Linked DNA regions of Homo sapiens: region 1 is linked to region 2. The links come from fine-mapping of genetic effects on gene expression. Tissue or cell type: whole blood. Region 2 holds a variant in brackets; the other region holds the start of a gene. All regions are shown on one strand. Distances are between the middles of the regions.

Region 1 (7,737 bases), 23 kb after region 2:
GCTGCTGATGGAAAGCATATATCTCTTTCACTCCATCCTCCCCTTCTCTCACACCAAGTCTGTGGCCCTGGAATCACCTGTCTGGGTCTCAACGACTCTCTGTCAAGCAGAGATCATATTGGGAAAAGCAAAGAGGTCTGGAAATGGAAGTGCTTTAGCTTCACTCATGTAAGGGATCATTTTAATGTGGACAATCCTTCTCTGAATTATCCAGTACAGACTAGATCTGCAGGATAGTTTGTTTACCAGATCCTGGCCAGGAAGAGCAAGCTCGTTCCCTGATTCTCAGGGCAGCACCATAGGTGCCTCTTTAAGATCATAGCCCTGAAAGTGTTTTCAGTTTAGAGTGGACATGGTAAATTACTTCCTCTCTTTTCTAAGACATAAAAGATTTTTTGAGTTTTTAACAGAGGGCTCTCCTACTCTGAGTGGTTTCACTGGTGAATGGTAAGCTACTTTACTATGACCTTTTTAAATATTCAGCATATTACCTGACCCAGAACAACATTTCTGAGATCTGAACTGCAGTCTTCTCTTGCATACTAGTTGTCACTGTAAATACACATGTAAAATCACACCAGGGTAAGCTACAACCCAGACAAACCATGAGCCTATAAAATAGAAGGCTAAACCATAACCTGCTTTTCGAGACCCCCCCTACAGCCCTAAGAACTATCCAAGTAACCTGACAGTAGGAAAATCCACCTTAGGTGTGCCCAGGCATGATAATCCCAAAGACATAAATGGAGCAAAATAGGTTTTAAAGAATTCTTGCAACACTGAAGACTAGGAGCTAAGAAGAGTCTAAATAACCATGCTCAGTGCCCAACCACCTGAAAAGTGGACTCCAGGGAAATTTTGTTGTTGTTATCCACCCCGCCCCAAGGGAAACATTTTATCTTTAATATTCAGGAGCAATAATAAAATATTTTGGCCACTGTTCTTCAAGGATTCCACAAGGCACTTAATTCTCATGTCAGGCTTTCTGAAATGCTTGCCCTGGAAAGTGTCACTTGATGGCTCACACACTCCTTGAGGATTAGGTGCTGACCCTAATTAGGCACAGGCAGAAATAGTTCAGGAATCCACATGCTCAGATTCATAACTATACTTTTTGTAAAAAATAAAAACATATAAAAAATGCCTTCTGGCTGGACAAGGTGGCTCACGCCTGTAATCCCAGCACTTTGAGAGGCTGAGTTGCGTAGATCGATTGAGGTCAGGGGCTGGAGACCAGCCTGGGCAACATGGTGAAACCCTATCTCTACTAAAAATACAAAAATTAGCCAGGAGTGGTGGCTCGCGCCTGCAGTCCCAGCTACTCGGGAGGCTGAGGCATAAGAATTGCTAGATCCCAGGAGAAGCTGCAGTGAGCTGAGATCGCACTGCTGCACCCAGATCTCCCCAGCCTGGGCAAGAGAGACTGTCTCAAAAAAAAAAAAAAAAAAAAAAAAAAAGGCCTTCTAGTGATCCTCAGAAATCCAAAAACCAGACAACTATGGCTTCCACTTCCATTTTTCAGATATCCATTATAATACTATTTGACCTCAAAGTGAATTTTATTGTTCCACACAAGCAACAGATTACACCAATTTCACAACTCCCAGAATCCAAACCTACAAAGACCCTTCCCACCAAGCACTTTACCAAAAACGGGCTTCATCTCCATCTTCCTTTCTTTCACAGTTGAAAAACTGCCCTTCCTAATTAAGCCAACCAACTTCTTACCTCAATAAAATCCTTGTTTTTCAGTAGCACGTACAGTATTTCCAGTGATGAACAGTGAACTGTCTTTCGTCTCACACAGTAACCTCCGTGAAGAAGATCCACCTTGTTCTTTACTGTATATTCCTGGCATGCTAACTGCATCCTCAGACAATTTTAAGTGACTGAAAACTCAGGCAAAGAAAGGCAAGAGGGCAAATAGAAGGGCACAGGAGACAACGCTTTTCAAATTTTTCTCACTGCGACCTACAGAAACACACTGTAGAACACCTCCTAGTACACTCACACGTGTGTGTACACCTGAAGTGTCAAGAAACAATACCCTAAGTGCAACACCCTCTGATATTTTCTATTTCAAGTGGCCGTGATCTACTAAACTGATTTCCAACTCACCAATAGGATTCAGTTTGAAAAACACTGCAATAAATCAAACCTTACAGTTGCATTCCACAAGCTACTAATGAACTCTTGAAAATCCAGCATACAGCAGAGACGCTGACCAACTACAAGATCCAAACCCCCCAGGTGGGCAGTGTCCTTCTGTTCAGCAGTGGCAGTTCCCCACCACCACCAGCCCTGAGAGTTAATTATCTCCCAAACTCCCAGAGTTTCCCAAGTAGCCTGAGGTGTCTGTCATATGCCCTTTTAACCTCTTTATAAATTCAGTCCCGTCCGTCTCTTACGGTGGCAAAGTTCATTTATCGTCGGCTGTGGAAAGCAATACTTCCTTTTTGTCCCCTCCAGGAACCAGAAATTAAATGACCAGGTTGGTGCCCGTTGTGCCTTTATGATCTATTTGTGTGGGTGATATATAGAAAGAGTCTCAGTCTCTCCCTTCATCTTTCCAGTCTTAATCACTGGTAGATGCAGTCTCTGGTGAAATAAGAAACCAGGGAACCCCCTGGCCTGGGGGAGGGCGCACTCATCAGCGTTGACAGAGTGAAAGCAAAAACTCAATCCTCACACCACAGAGGCGTCTGGCTAACTCATCTCCAGACCTAAGTTGGGAAAGGGGAGGGGAGCGCGGAAAGCGGAGAAGCCGGAGGAGACGCTCCGGAGTGACCAGCGACGGCTGAACGCAGCCCGCCCTCCCCAAGTCGACGCCGCAACCCGGGGAAAGCAGGTGAGCGCCGGCCACGGACTTGGGGGTCGCAGAAGCAGCCCACGGAGAGCGGAAGGGAGGAGGATCCGGGTAAGGGGCCTCCCCTCCCCGTCGGGACCCCCCTCCCCGTCGGGACCCCCCCCTCCCCGTCGGGACCCCTCCCACTGACGCTCTGCCTCCCACTCTGGCCTCTCCTCACTCACCCCGGGGAGTGGGCCTCCCCTACTGCAGAGAAAGGAAGAGGAGAAGGAGGGAATGAGGACTTAACGCCCACCCCTGCCCCCCACCATACCGCTCTCGCCGCCCGGGAAAATCCCGCCGCGGGCCCCACCAGCCAAGCGCCGCCTTCGCCCCACGCGGCCTCTTCCTAGCGCCTGCGCGCCAGGCCCAGCCCGGCGGACGCGATCTGAGAGTGCGCGCGCACCTTGCGTGCGCCGGCGTGCGGGGCGGGACCTGCGGGGCTCCGCCCCCTCCCCCTCCCTCCCCCCGCTCCCCCTCCCCCATACACTGCCGCGGCCGCCGCAGGAGCCCGGAGCTCGAGCCGCCCAGCGACTCCCCCTCCCCCTCCCCCAGCCCCGCCCCGCCCCAACCCGGGGCTCCGAGCCGGAGCCGAGTCTGCGCCTGGGGGTGAGTACGCGACCCCTACCCAGCCCTCGCTCTTTTCTTCGAAGATCCCACCACCACCCAAAGAAAAAACCTGGACTCAGCTGCGCGTCCCCTCCCTTCAACCTCCTGCGGGACCCAGAGGTGCCCGGGCCCGCGGGACCCAGGGGTGGCGCGCGCTGCCCCCAACCCCGCACCATCCCGAGCCAAATGTGAGTCCTCCAACCCCTGCCGGAGGTCCAGATACGCGCCGCCGGCTCTCCCCAGCCCCGGGGAGATCCCAAAGGGTGGGACCCCCGCCCCCGGCCCCCGAGTGCCACTCTTCTCCCACCTGCCCGGTGCAGGTGCGCGTCCCCTGCGCGACCCTCGGGGGTGCCAGCTGCGCCCCGCCTGTCCGCCGCCGTTTGGGGAACTAGCCGCCCCCGCCCCCGAGTTTTGGACCCCGGGGTCGCCAAGTCCGATGCCTTCTGTGCCTTTTATTTTTTCTGCTGCTCCCGGGGGCGAGTACACCCGAAGCCGGTCCGGGGTAAGGGCTCGGGCTCGGGCAAGGGCAGGGTTCGCAGGTGCTGGCACGAGGCCGGCCGCTGCCCCCGGCTCTGGGGACTGACTGGTCGGCGGGCTGGAGAGGCGGCCGGCCCCGGGAGCGTGTCCTCTCCTTGCGCCCCACACAGTGCAGTTCATTCATGAGCCGCCCGGGCCTGCGTTGGAGGGTGCGGTGGGGAAAAGATTCAGACGCGAAACCGAGAGTGGGGCAAAGGCCCTGTTGTGGGGAGGGGGCGCCGCTTTGTCCCTCCTGGCTGTCTTGACCGCCTAAGGCGGACAGTCCCAAAGCTTGGCACCTTGTTCCCCAGAAAAGGAAAGGACGCTTGGGAAGTGGGGAGGAGAGGTCAGAGGGGCTGGCTGCCCTTGGGGCGCTGTGCTGCCCCCTGCCTGGGTCCCCTGGGCAGAGGTCTGGCCGCTCGGGGCAAGCCTGAGCACTCCACCGCCCTGGGGGGCTGGGGCTTGCCTACCCATTACCAGTCTGCAGCAGCCGGGGAGCAATGAGGCTGTGCCCAACACCTGCTGAAGAGGGGCCCATCCTGCCTCCCAGGCCAGGGTGAGGTGGGGAGTGGGAGTGTCAGCCAGGCTTCAAGTGGGGGTGTGCTGGCAGCGTGATTGTCCTCCAGGGCACCAGAGGGTCCAGGCCTTGGCATGCCCCAGGTGGCACATGCTGGGGCCTGCTGTTGGCTCACTCAGTGCAGTCTTGGCCTGTGGGTGGATGGGGACATGGCAAGGCAGAAGGCAGGCAGTGGGTAACTAAGAACCCCCTTGGACATCATTCAAGTTCTCTCCAAGTATAGCAGAGTCTTAGAGACCTGCGTTCAAATTCTAGCTCTACTATTCTTCAGCTGTGTGACCTTGACAAGTTACTTAACCTGTCTGAACCTCAGTTTTCATTAAAAAGTGTTTATGCCTATAATTCCAGCACTTTGGGAGACTGAGGCGGACAGATCACTTGAGGTCAGGAGTTCGAGACCAGCCTGGCCAACATGGTGAAACCCCATCGCTACTAAAAATACAAAAATTAGCCGGGCATGGTGGCACACACCTGTAATCCCAGCTACTCAGGAGGCTGAGGCAGGAGAATGGCTTAAACCTGGGAGGCGGAGGTTGCAGTGAGCCGAGATTGTGGCACTTCACTCCAGCCTGGGTGACAGAGCAAGACTGTCTCAAAAAAAAAAAAAAAAAGAAAGAAAAGAAAAAGAAAAAAAGTGTGGTTACTACCACCTCCTTACAAGTTTTATCATGGGAATCAAACAAGGTAACAGAAGTAAAGAGCTTGGCATCCTTCCTGGTAATTGATCAATAATGGGTTATCATCTCTGAACTTCTGACCCATAACTCTCCCATGCCTCCACCTCCCAGGCTACCACAGATGGATGGGGTATGTTCAAAGAGTGAGAATATTCCCTGTCACTCAGTGGCAGAGTCCCTAACACAGTGTAAACCCTTAGGTCTAAATAAGAAGCCCAACCTGACTGAGGGGCTCTGTTATATTTCTATCATGTTACATTCTGTGTTTTTATCTTATTTTTGTTTTTACCAATTTTCTTTCTCTAAACCAACCCCTTTTATTCCATACCTTATTAATAACAATAACTAATTCCTAGAGCCCATTATATGCCTTGAACTATATTAAGAGCTTTACATAAGTCATCTTGTTTAATCCCCAGAACAACAACACAACTGGATTATTGTCCCATTTTACAAATGAAGAAACTGAGGCCCAGGGTGACTAAGTAATTTTCCCAGGTTAGAAGCCTGGTCTGTCACATCCTAGAGTCTGTGCTTTTAACCACCAGACTATGGTGCCTGTCCCCTATGCCTGCCTCAGAACCTGAAATCACAAACCCAAGGCCTGAGTGGAGGGAAGCTACAAGCAAGAGGAAAGGCAAGCAGGTAGAAATAGGGTATGGCATTTCTCCAGTGTGGTAACTGACTGCCTCCGGCTCCCTGGTGGAAGTGGCTCTTGTTTGCAGATAACTCTGCAAAGTGCAGTGGTTAAGAGCATACACTCGAGCCAGGCAGCCTGGGTCCTTATCTGGGTCTACCACAGACTGGCTGTGTGACCTTGAGCAGCTCATATACTCTCTCTGTATCTCAGTGTCCTCCTGGGGTTGTGATGGGGAGCAAATGAGTTACATTTGTAAAGTGCTTAGAACAGTGCTTGGCACAAAAGAAGAGTTAAATAAACATTTAATACTATTATTTTACTACTTTTTTTTCTTTTTCTGTTTTTCTTTTTTCTTTCCTTTTTTTTTTTAGACACGGTCTCTGTCTGTCGCCCAGGATGGAGTGCAGTGGCATGATCTTGGTTCACTGCAGCCTGGAACTCCCTGGGCTCAGGTGATCTTCGCACCTCAGCTTCCGGAGTAGCTGGGACTACAGACATGCACCAGCATGCCCAGCTAAATTTTGGTGGTGGGGGGTATCTTTTGTAGAGACGGGGTTTTGCTATGTTGCCCAAGCTGGTCTCGAACTCCTGGGCTGACGTGATTCTCCCACCACAGCCTCCCAAAGTGCTGGGATTACAGGTGTGAGCCACCATGCCTGGCTTTTTTTTTTTTTTCCCCTCGAGACAAGGTTTTGCTCTCTTGCCCAGGCTGGAGTGCAGTGGCATGATCATGGCTGACTGCAGCCTCCAACTCCTAGGCTCAAGGTATCTTCCCCACTTGGCCTTCAAAAGTGCTGAGATTACAGGGGTGAGCCACCCCACCCTGCCTACTACTACTTTTTTTTTTGAGATGGAGTCTCACTCTGTCGCCCAGGCTGGAGTGCAGTGGCATGATCTAAGGTCACTGCAACCTCTGCCTCCTGGGTTCAAGTGATTCTCCTGCCTCAGCCTCCCGAGTAGCTGGGACTACAGACGCATGCCACCACACCCAGCTAATTTTTGTATTTTTTTAGTAGAGACGGGGTTTCACTGTGTTGGCCAGGCTGGTCTCGAACTCCTGACCCTGTGATCTGCCCAGCTCGGCCTCCCAAAATGCTGGGATTACAGGTGTGAGCCACCGTGCCTGGCACCTACTACTACTTTTATGCTCACTTGTGGATATATTCTTGCCTTTCTCTCTGAAGTGGGTAGGGGTAGAGTAAGGATATTTGTATCTCTTTGTTACAGATTGGAAGACTGAGACTCAGGTTTCGTAGTAACAGAGCTCGCTTCCATCTTCCCCTCCTCCCCTCAGACCACATGGCCTTGCTTTGATCCAAAGCCCTAACTTAAATCTTGCCCAGTAACTCCACTGAAAAAGCTTATATCACTCCTGTAATCCCAGCACTTTGGGAGGCCGAGGTGGGCAGATCATGAGGTCAAGAGATCGAGACCATCCTGGCCAACATGGTGAAACCCTGTCTCTACTGAAAATACAAAAATTAGCTGGGCGTGGTGGCATGTGTCTGTAGTCCCAGCTACTCAGGAGGCTGAGGCAGGAGAATCCCTTGAACCCAGGAGGCAGAGGTTGCAGTGAGCCAAGATCGCGCCACTGCACTCCACTCTGGTGACAGAGCGAGACTCCGTCTCAAAAAAATACACAACAACCCCCCCAAAAAAAAGCTTATAAGTTATAGCTCTCCAACCCCCACCATGCACACACTCCTTAATGGTAAAATTAAAAAGTTAGCTAGAAGTAAAATGCTCCATCACTCTCTGGACACACCTCAACCAAAACCTCAATATCAGACTAGAGAAACTGGGATATAGCTGGTGCAGGCACCTCGTGGAGTGGAAGAACTGCCACCTCCCATCCCCAAGGTATTCTGCCTCA
Region 2 (7,737 bases):
CCCTGGGTCTGGGCGTCACCGGACAGCCTTCAGGGTAAAATGCAGATCATACTAGTGGGCCTTCTCTTGATGATATTGATCTCTTAGTAACTTACTGTGCCAACATATTCTTACCAAAGACCCCCTCGAAACAAGGGGAGAACCACCTGTCTACAAGAAGAGTTGCTCAGGTGTCTCCCATCCTAAAATCCTTATGTCGACCTCCAGTTACAGCCCATCTCTCTCCTTCCCTTCTCAGCCAAGCTTCTTGCAGAAGTCACCTGCACTTCCCCCTTCTCACCCCACCACAGGCTGCCTGACCCCACTGCTTCACCAGTGATGGCCTGTAGCCACTCCACCTGTCCCTCCACAGGCCTCACTTCATCTGTTGAGGTTGACCACTTCCTCTTGGAACATCACCTCCCTGGCTTCCAGGACTCCACTTCCCCAGTCCTCCTCCCATCTCCTTGACTGTCTTCTTGACTCCCCACCCAGCTTCTTCCTGCCCACCTGCCTCCTAAACATCGGCTTCTCCAGCGCTCCACCCTGGCTTACTGCGCCTCTCTCCCCAGCCTCTCGTTGGGTGACCTCATGATTAGAAGCACCGTGCATTTCTGAAGCCTCTCAAGTCTCTCTCCCTCTATTCTCACCCCCGACCTTATGTTTGGTGTACCGTACTGTCAACAAAACACTTGCAACTAAACAAGCAGAAAAGAATTCCCTGCCTTCTCCTCTCTCCCCTCCTAAGATCCTGAACTCCATAAAGAGCCCCATCCATTCCACCAAGTCAGAGCCCTAGAAGGTACCCTCACCTCCATCCACCTCCAAACTTTCACCAGATCCTGCCTATTCCACCTCAGGGGAAGTTTATCAATTGAGTAGCCCAACAGGTTTAAGACTGCAGGTGCAGGGAGGCATGGATGCGCTTTATTTCTTGGACATGGCTCAGAGGAGGGGCAGCTCCAGAGCACAAGGGCAGGGCGAGAGGCAGCACAGGCCAGCAGGAGAGAAAGCCCTGTAGCCCAGATCACACACAGTCTCACCAGACCCCCAGCTGTGCATTGGCTGCTGCAGGCATCTCCCCTCCCTGCCTCAGCCCAGGCCTCCACCAGTCAGCAGCTGAGCTGGCCCAGCTCCCCTCCACAGGAACAGCCTGCAGCTTGCCCTGTGCTCACCCCCAACCCCCTACCCCATTCTCCTTCACTATGAAGTTCCTCTGAATACAAAGCCCACCTCTCAATAACCTATCCCAAGATAATTTGATAGTGCTAACTTGAATTTCTGAACTCCCTGCCCTGTTTCCCAGCATGGTCCTTTCTCTATGCCAAGCTACTTCTACCTACTAAATAGCTATTTTCCCTCAAATCTTTCTTAACTCCTGTCCTCCATCCCTGCCTTGCCTTACCAGAGTATTATGTTGTTTTGTTTTGTTTTCCTTTTTTTTTTTTTTTTTTTGAGACGAAGTCTTGCTCTGTCACCCAGGCTGGAGTGCAGTGGCACGATCTCAGCTCACTCAACCTCCGCCTCCCGGGTTTAAGCGATTCTCCTGTGTCAGCCTCCCGAGTAGCCGGGATTACAGGTGCATGCCACCACGCCCAGCTAATTTTCGTATTTTTGGTAGAGATAGTTTCGCCACGCTGGCCAGACTGGTCTCAAACTCCTGACCTCAGATGATCTACCCGCCTCGGCCTCCCAAAGTGCAGGAATTACAGGCGTGAGCCACCGCGCCTGGCCATCTCTTGAATTTACTGAATTCCCTGCTCCCTTCCTGGTCCTTCATACCAACCCTTTTAGAGGGGTTCTTTGCACAGCAGCTGAGTGATCTTAATAAATGTCCATCTGGGATGGGGAGCCACTGGCCAGTTAAAGCAGGGCAGTGACAGGGTTAAAGTCCCAGCACCTAGTGCAACCTATGTAGCCTTCCCTGGCCTGGCCCGTCAGCTACCTCAGCCCCACTGCAACCCTCTAGGTACCTCAAACAGCTGGCAGGTCCCGGCACATCCCACCCGGCATCACACCTCTGGTTTTGGCTGGGATGAAAGGGTATTCCCACTTCAGCCTGTCACTTGACTAACTCTGACTGTCCAGCTTCCAGGCTCTGGGCATCTCCTCAGGAAGCCTTTCTGACCCTCCTGGGTCAGTGTTGCCACAGCACATGGGCTCCTGTCACCTGCTGCAGGAGGCAGAAACTGCTCATGGATCTGTCTCCCTTCTGAGAGCTTCTCCAGGGCAAGATCCATATTTTGCCCATCTGGGCACACACAGTAAATGTTTGCATCAGTCAGCGTCCAAGCAGGCAACAAGGGGCCACTTGAATTGGGATAATGTGAGGAGAATTTAACAAAGGGACTGTTTACAAAGGTGTGGACCAGTACAGTGGGTGCTGTAGTGCCCTGACGCCAAGGCCCCAAGAGTGTAGAGCACTGCCTGAGGGGCTGTGACATATGACTGAAGAGTGTGGTCAGCCCTGCAGGAATGGGAGCCCGCTGATGCAGTCCATACAGGTCAGCCTCCTGGGGCACAGGGCAGGGTGGAAAAGGGTGAGAGGGACCCCGAGGGACAGATTAAGATGTCCAACCCAGGGCTCAACCAATGTCAATTGAACAGAACTTCACTGATGAGACACCCTGAGCAGGGTTCCACAGACCGACCACTTCTCCAAGGAGAAAACAACATTCCAGGCCAAAGATGTGCCAAGGCTCACCTGTGGGGTCAGCATGGCTTATGCCGGTGTAAAGGCAGCAACAGTACCGACAGGGTTGGAGAAGCAATGAGCAAAGTCGAGGTCTCCAAGTGGGACAAACCCCCGCCTCCAGGTTGAGAGCACCAAGTGAGCAGAGTTCCTCCGCCAGGCTGCAAGGGACTTCCTTAGCTTGGGTTTTCCAGATGAGGAACTGGGTCTGGAGGTGAGTGGTGGCCCTTTGTGGGGATGGGGAAGAACCCACACTCTTTCTTCACTTGATAACTCACTCAGCAAACATTAGGAACCCACTTGAAAATGGGTGTTAACAGCTCCAGGGTGAGCCAAGACCCAGGAAGCCCCCAGTTGGCTAAGTGCAGAGAATGAAGACTGGCCCATTTCCTTGGCAGAGTAGATGACCAAGCTGTGGAGTGACAGGAAACAGTGGTGTTAAATAAGGCCAGGAGCCAACCTCCAGCAGGAAGCACTGACCTCAGCTTGGGCCGGAAGGTGCTGACCTAAGAGGCAACTGGAAGTAACTACAAGTATCCACAATGGTCATCCAACAGATGCTTCCGGAAAACTATTTTAATAGCTGAGGGAAGGCACATTACCAAGAAATATTTCCACCACAGGTCAGTGCAGCAGAAAAAGCAGAAGAAATGTGGTCAGGTGGTCCTGACTTCAAATCTCAGCCTGCCACTTGACTACAAGTCCCTTAACTCTTCTCAGCCTGGGTTTTCTCACACATAAATCAGATACAATAATCACACGGCATCATTGTGAAGACTTGGAAGAGAATATGCAAAGTGTCCAGCACAAAACTGGCATAAAGCAAGCCCTCAATAAATTGGTTTCTCTTGTCTGTTCCTACTACCAT[A/G]TGCCACAGACCAAGGCTGAAAGAGATGTGGTTTCTACCTCGGTGGGCAGCCAGATTGTCGCAAGAAGTTGGCAGCATGCCAAGACCAGGTCAGAGCCCTGGATTGAAATGTGAAGTTCCAGAAGGAAAAGGAACAGCACTGCTGCTGTAGGAGAATGGACAGGACTTCGTAAAAAACAAAAATGAGGCTAGGCGCGGTGGCTCACGCCTGTAATCCTAGCACTTTGGGAGGCCAAGGCAGGTGGATCACCTGAGGTCTGGAGTTTGAGAGCAGCATGACCAACATGGAGAAACCCCGTCTCTACTAAAAATACAAAATTAGCCAGGTGTGGTGGCGCATGCCTGTAATCCCAGCTACTCGGGAGGCTGAGGCAGGGGAATCACTTGAACCCGGGAGGTGGAGGTTGTGGTGAGCCGAGATCGTGCCACTGCACTCCAGCCTGGGCAACAAGAGTGAAACTCCGTCTCCAAAAAAAAAAGAAAAGAGAAAAGTAGGACAAACCCAAAAGTGACTCCAAAGTTGTAAGATTTGTAAGGCAGGAAGGTTGCTGGTGCCACTGCTAAGACAGTCCTGAGAGGTAAGGGCAGAGGCAGAAACCAAAGCTCTGAGAAATGTGACCAGCTAAAGTGACCTGAGATGCGAGCCAGTGGCTGAGCCCAAGCTAAAGCTTTGGCCTCAACCCCCCACCCAGAGCACTGCACATGCAATCATGTGGACCAGTTCTCCCCACCTCACTCTGTGAGCCAAATGGCCCCAATCCTCCGATGGCCTTGACTGCTGGCCTCAACCCTTCAGTAAACTGCAGCCTTTCTACATTTTCCAACACCTACTCCAGCTTTAGGGCCCAAATCATGGCAATCAGCAGATAAACAGTGATCAAGTGCATATCTCCATGGATTGCAATGTGGCTTCATTCCTGTAATTCTACACCACTATTTATGAACCATTGGCTCACTATGACTCCCAGATGCTCTCTGTCCTCCTTATACACAACAGGTCCCACCTAGTCTCACCCTTAAGACTGTCAACCCTTGGGGCCAGGGAGTTCTTTGTTGTGCGGGCAGTCCTGCACATTGTAGCATGGCCAGCAGCATCCCTGGACTCTACCCACTAGATGCTGCCCCCAGTTGTGACAACCAACACTATCTCCAGACATTGCCAAATGTCCCCAGCTGAGAACCACTGCCTTATCTCTTGTACAGCCTTTTTTTTCCCCCTAAACATGAAGAGTAAAAATACGTGCCAGCTTAAGCAGTTATAGACATCATAGAATATCTTAAACTGGAGTCATAAACTGGAGTTTAATGGGGAAACAGAAAACACTGGGCATCTGGCCAGTGTGGGTGAAGCCCTTGGGATAAGGATCTATGTGGAGACAGGCAACTCTGTCCACCATGGGTCCTTGTAGACACTCCATAATGTCTTAATTTTTACCAACCCCTATACTAGATGTCTATATGCAGACTCCTAAATTGAGAATACAAATTTTAACTTTTCAGCTCTCATATTTTTGTGCATCTACTAAGCATCAGCGATAGAACTATGAACAAGACAGAGACTGCTCCTGAGCCCATGGGCTTGCCCAGTTTCAAAGTGCTGTAAGAAGTGCTATGCTGAGGACCAACAGGGCTCAGCCTGGGCCCCACAGAGGAAGGAGAACACTGGCCCAACTCTACCACTTACTTACTGTTTCCTATCTTTAAAACAGGGACACCAGCCCTACCTACTACTCAGAGTTGTCACCAAGGCCTGGAGTCACAGAAGTTCTAGGCTGGAAGAAACTTTCTAGGACTAAAAGGTGAAGGCACTGCAAACTGGAAAGTGCTGCATAGAGGTAGAGGTCTGCCAGGGGGGTTCAGAAATCACATGGATCCCAGTGAGGAAGCACCTACTCAGAAGAAAAAGCAGTGAGGTGGGCTCTGAAGCTTTCAGACCCAGTGAGGAATGCAGGGGTCGGAGAGGTTTCAGACCACAGCTCACAAACATCCTGCCTCCCTCTGACCCATCAGCACCACATACTCCAACCACCTGGTCCACATGCCTTGGGAAGTCCTGCTCCTCAGCGCAGCTGAAATTCTCTCAACTCCTCACAAGCAATGCTGCTTCCTGCCCCTCAGGCGGGACAGGTATGGCCCCATTCAAAAGTATTTTTCGGGCCAGGCATGGTGGCTCACGCCTGTAATCCCAGCATTTTGGGAGGCCAAGGTAGGCAGATCACTTGAGATCAGGAGTTTGAGACCAGCCTGACCAACATGTTGAAACCCCATCTCAGCCAGGCACGGTGGCTCACGCCTGTAATCCCAGCACTTTGGGAGGCCGAGGCGGGTGGATCACAAGGTCAGGAGATCGAGACCATCCTGGCTAACACGGTGAAACCCCGTCTCTACTAAAAAAACACAAAAAATTAGCTGGGCGTGGTGACGAGCACCTGTAGTCCCAGCTACTCAGGAGGCTGAGGCAGGAGAATGGTGTGAACCTGGGAGGCGGAGCTTGCAGTGAGCCAAGATAGTGCCACTGCACTCCAGCCTGGGCGAAAGAGCAAAACTCCATCTCAAAAAAAAAAAAAAGAAACCCCATCTCTACTAATAACACAAAAATTAGCTGGGCATGGTGGTGGGCGCCTGTAATCCCAACTACTTGGGAGGCTGAGGCAGGAGAATCACTTGAACCTGGGAGGTGGAGGTTACAGTGACCTAAGATCACGCCATTGCACTCCAGCCTGGGCAACAGAGTGAAACGGTGTCTTATGTCACAGTTAGATGCAGTGAAAAGAGCTGGACTGGGCATGAGAAAACTCAAGTTCTAGTCCCAAATCTGTTACTCTCATATGTGAAATGTGGTTGGCTCCTCAGCTCCCCAAGTCGACATGGTCATCATGAATGGTCTAAACCACAATGGTGGGAATCCACTTCAGCTTTGTTTTGAAATAAACTGTTCTGAAGCTATAGGTGAGTTAACTCCAACAAAGCCTTGCCCTCAATTATGGGGACCCAGCCTGGAGAAACAAAATCCAGAGATAACCTTGAAACCTAATTTCAGACAAGGATTTCATCCTTCTTTACCTGCAAACCTTTTACCAGACCTGGCAGTGTAACTGATGAGTTAATGCAGTTGGTTGACAGGATGCTAGTAGACACACGGACAAATGAAAGCCCTGCTCCCTGACCCATGTGTACCTGCCTCTTTGCAGACATCAGCCATGGCCAGCCAGGAAGGGCGCTGGGTTAGCCTGTGGGGATGGGGCAGCACAGCCCACTCCCTGCCTGGGAAACCCACTGGAGGCCAGGTATAGTATCCCTTGAGAAGGCCAGCACCCAAAGGTCTCTCTTTCTCTCCTCTTCCTGTGCTGGGCAGCCCCCTGAGAAGTGGTGCCAATCAACAGGGAGCTCAGTGGGGAGCAGGGAGAGCAGCTGTGATCACACACTGGATCATCAGTCAAGATCGGCCAAGAACTGTCTCTACTGAGCATGTAAACACTTGGCCTCAAATCAGTTGCCAATCAAGGTTTCATAATATCCAAAGGTATCACAATTATTCAAGAGTTCTTGTGAAACTACCAAAATAAAATAAGTTTAATTTTCATTTAAAAAATGCCTGCAGCATGTCTTATGAAACAGCCTGCCATAATATCAAGCAAATGACAACAGATTACTGTTCCCAAATCTAGCTGGGAATCACCATCTTTATACTGAAAGTTGAGAAGCAAACTCATCACCACTTTCAGCCCAGGAAGCCCAAATAATTCAGAAAATTACTAATATTTGGCAAAATAATTCAGCAAGAAGGTGTCGAAAATGCTGGAAAGAACTTAATTGTGATCCGTTACCATTCTCCCGGTGGGAAAGAATGAAACAGAAGTCCCATGATTTTAAGTATGAATTACAAAATTAGAGGAAGAAAAGACATGCAGCTGCTGGTACAGATTCGAATTTCAGTTAAGCATTTGAGTCCAGTATCATACAATTTTTGTCAAAAACAAGATTTCTCAGCCACTGAGAAAGAAAATGAAAGACCATGAGAAGAGGCCAAGAAAGGCAATGAGAGGCCCGAGCAAGGACACTGAGGAGGCTGCGCACGGGGAGGTTGGAGCGGAACGGCCTTGGGCTCCCACCTGCACAGTAGGATCTCACCCCCGGATTGACCCCGGCCCTGGCCCTCCTCCACACTCTTGACACAGGAGGAGGCACGCCTCCAGTG

What was found. PIP is the estimated chance that this variant, and not a neighbour inherited with it, causes the effect.
Region 1: it holds the start of MRPL14, and the variant in region 2 is fine-mapped to the expression of MRPL14 in whole blood (INTERVAL, PIP above 0.99).

What each region holds. Positions count from the first base shown.
Region 1 is chr6:44,124,225-44,131,961 of GRCh38, forward strand. It overlaps MRPL14 (mitochondrial ribosomal protein L14), which reads right to left and starts at 3,228. Exons shown (of 3, transcript NM_032111.4): 1 at 3,120-3,228. TMEM63B (transmembrane protein 63B) reads left to right here and starts at 3,330. Exons shown (of 24, transcript NM_018426.3): 1 at 3,330-3,454. RefSeq lists silencers at 2,961-3,020, 3,051-3,100, 3,121-3,520, 3,561-3,670, 3,851-4,010 and 1 more.
Region 2 is chr6:44,101,694-44,109,430 of GRCh38, forward strand. No RefSeq gene overlaps it. Among named protein-coding and RNA genes, the nearest start is that of MRPL14, 22 kb to the right of the region's middle. RefSeq lists enhancers at 501-1,050, 1,051-1,599, 2,702-2,871, 4,714-4,883, 5,721-6,220. The variant A/G (reference allele first, on the strand shown) is at 3,540.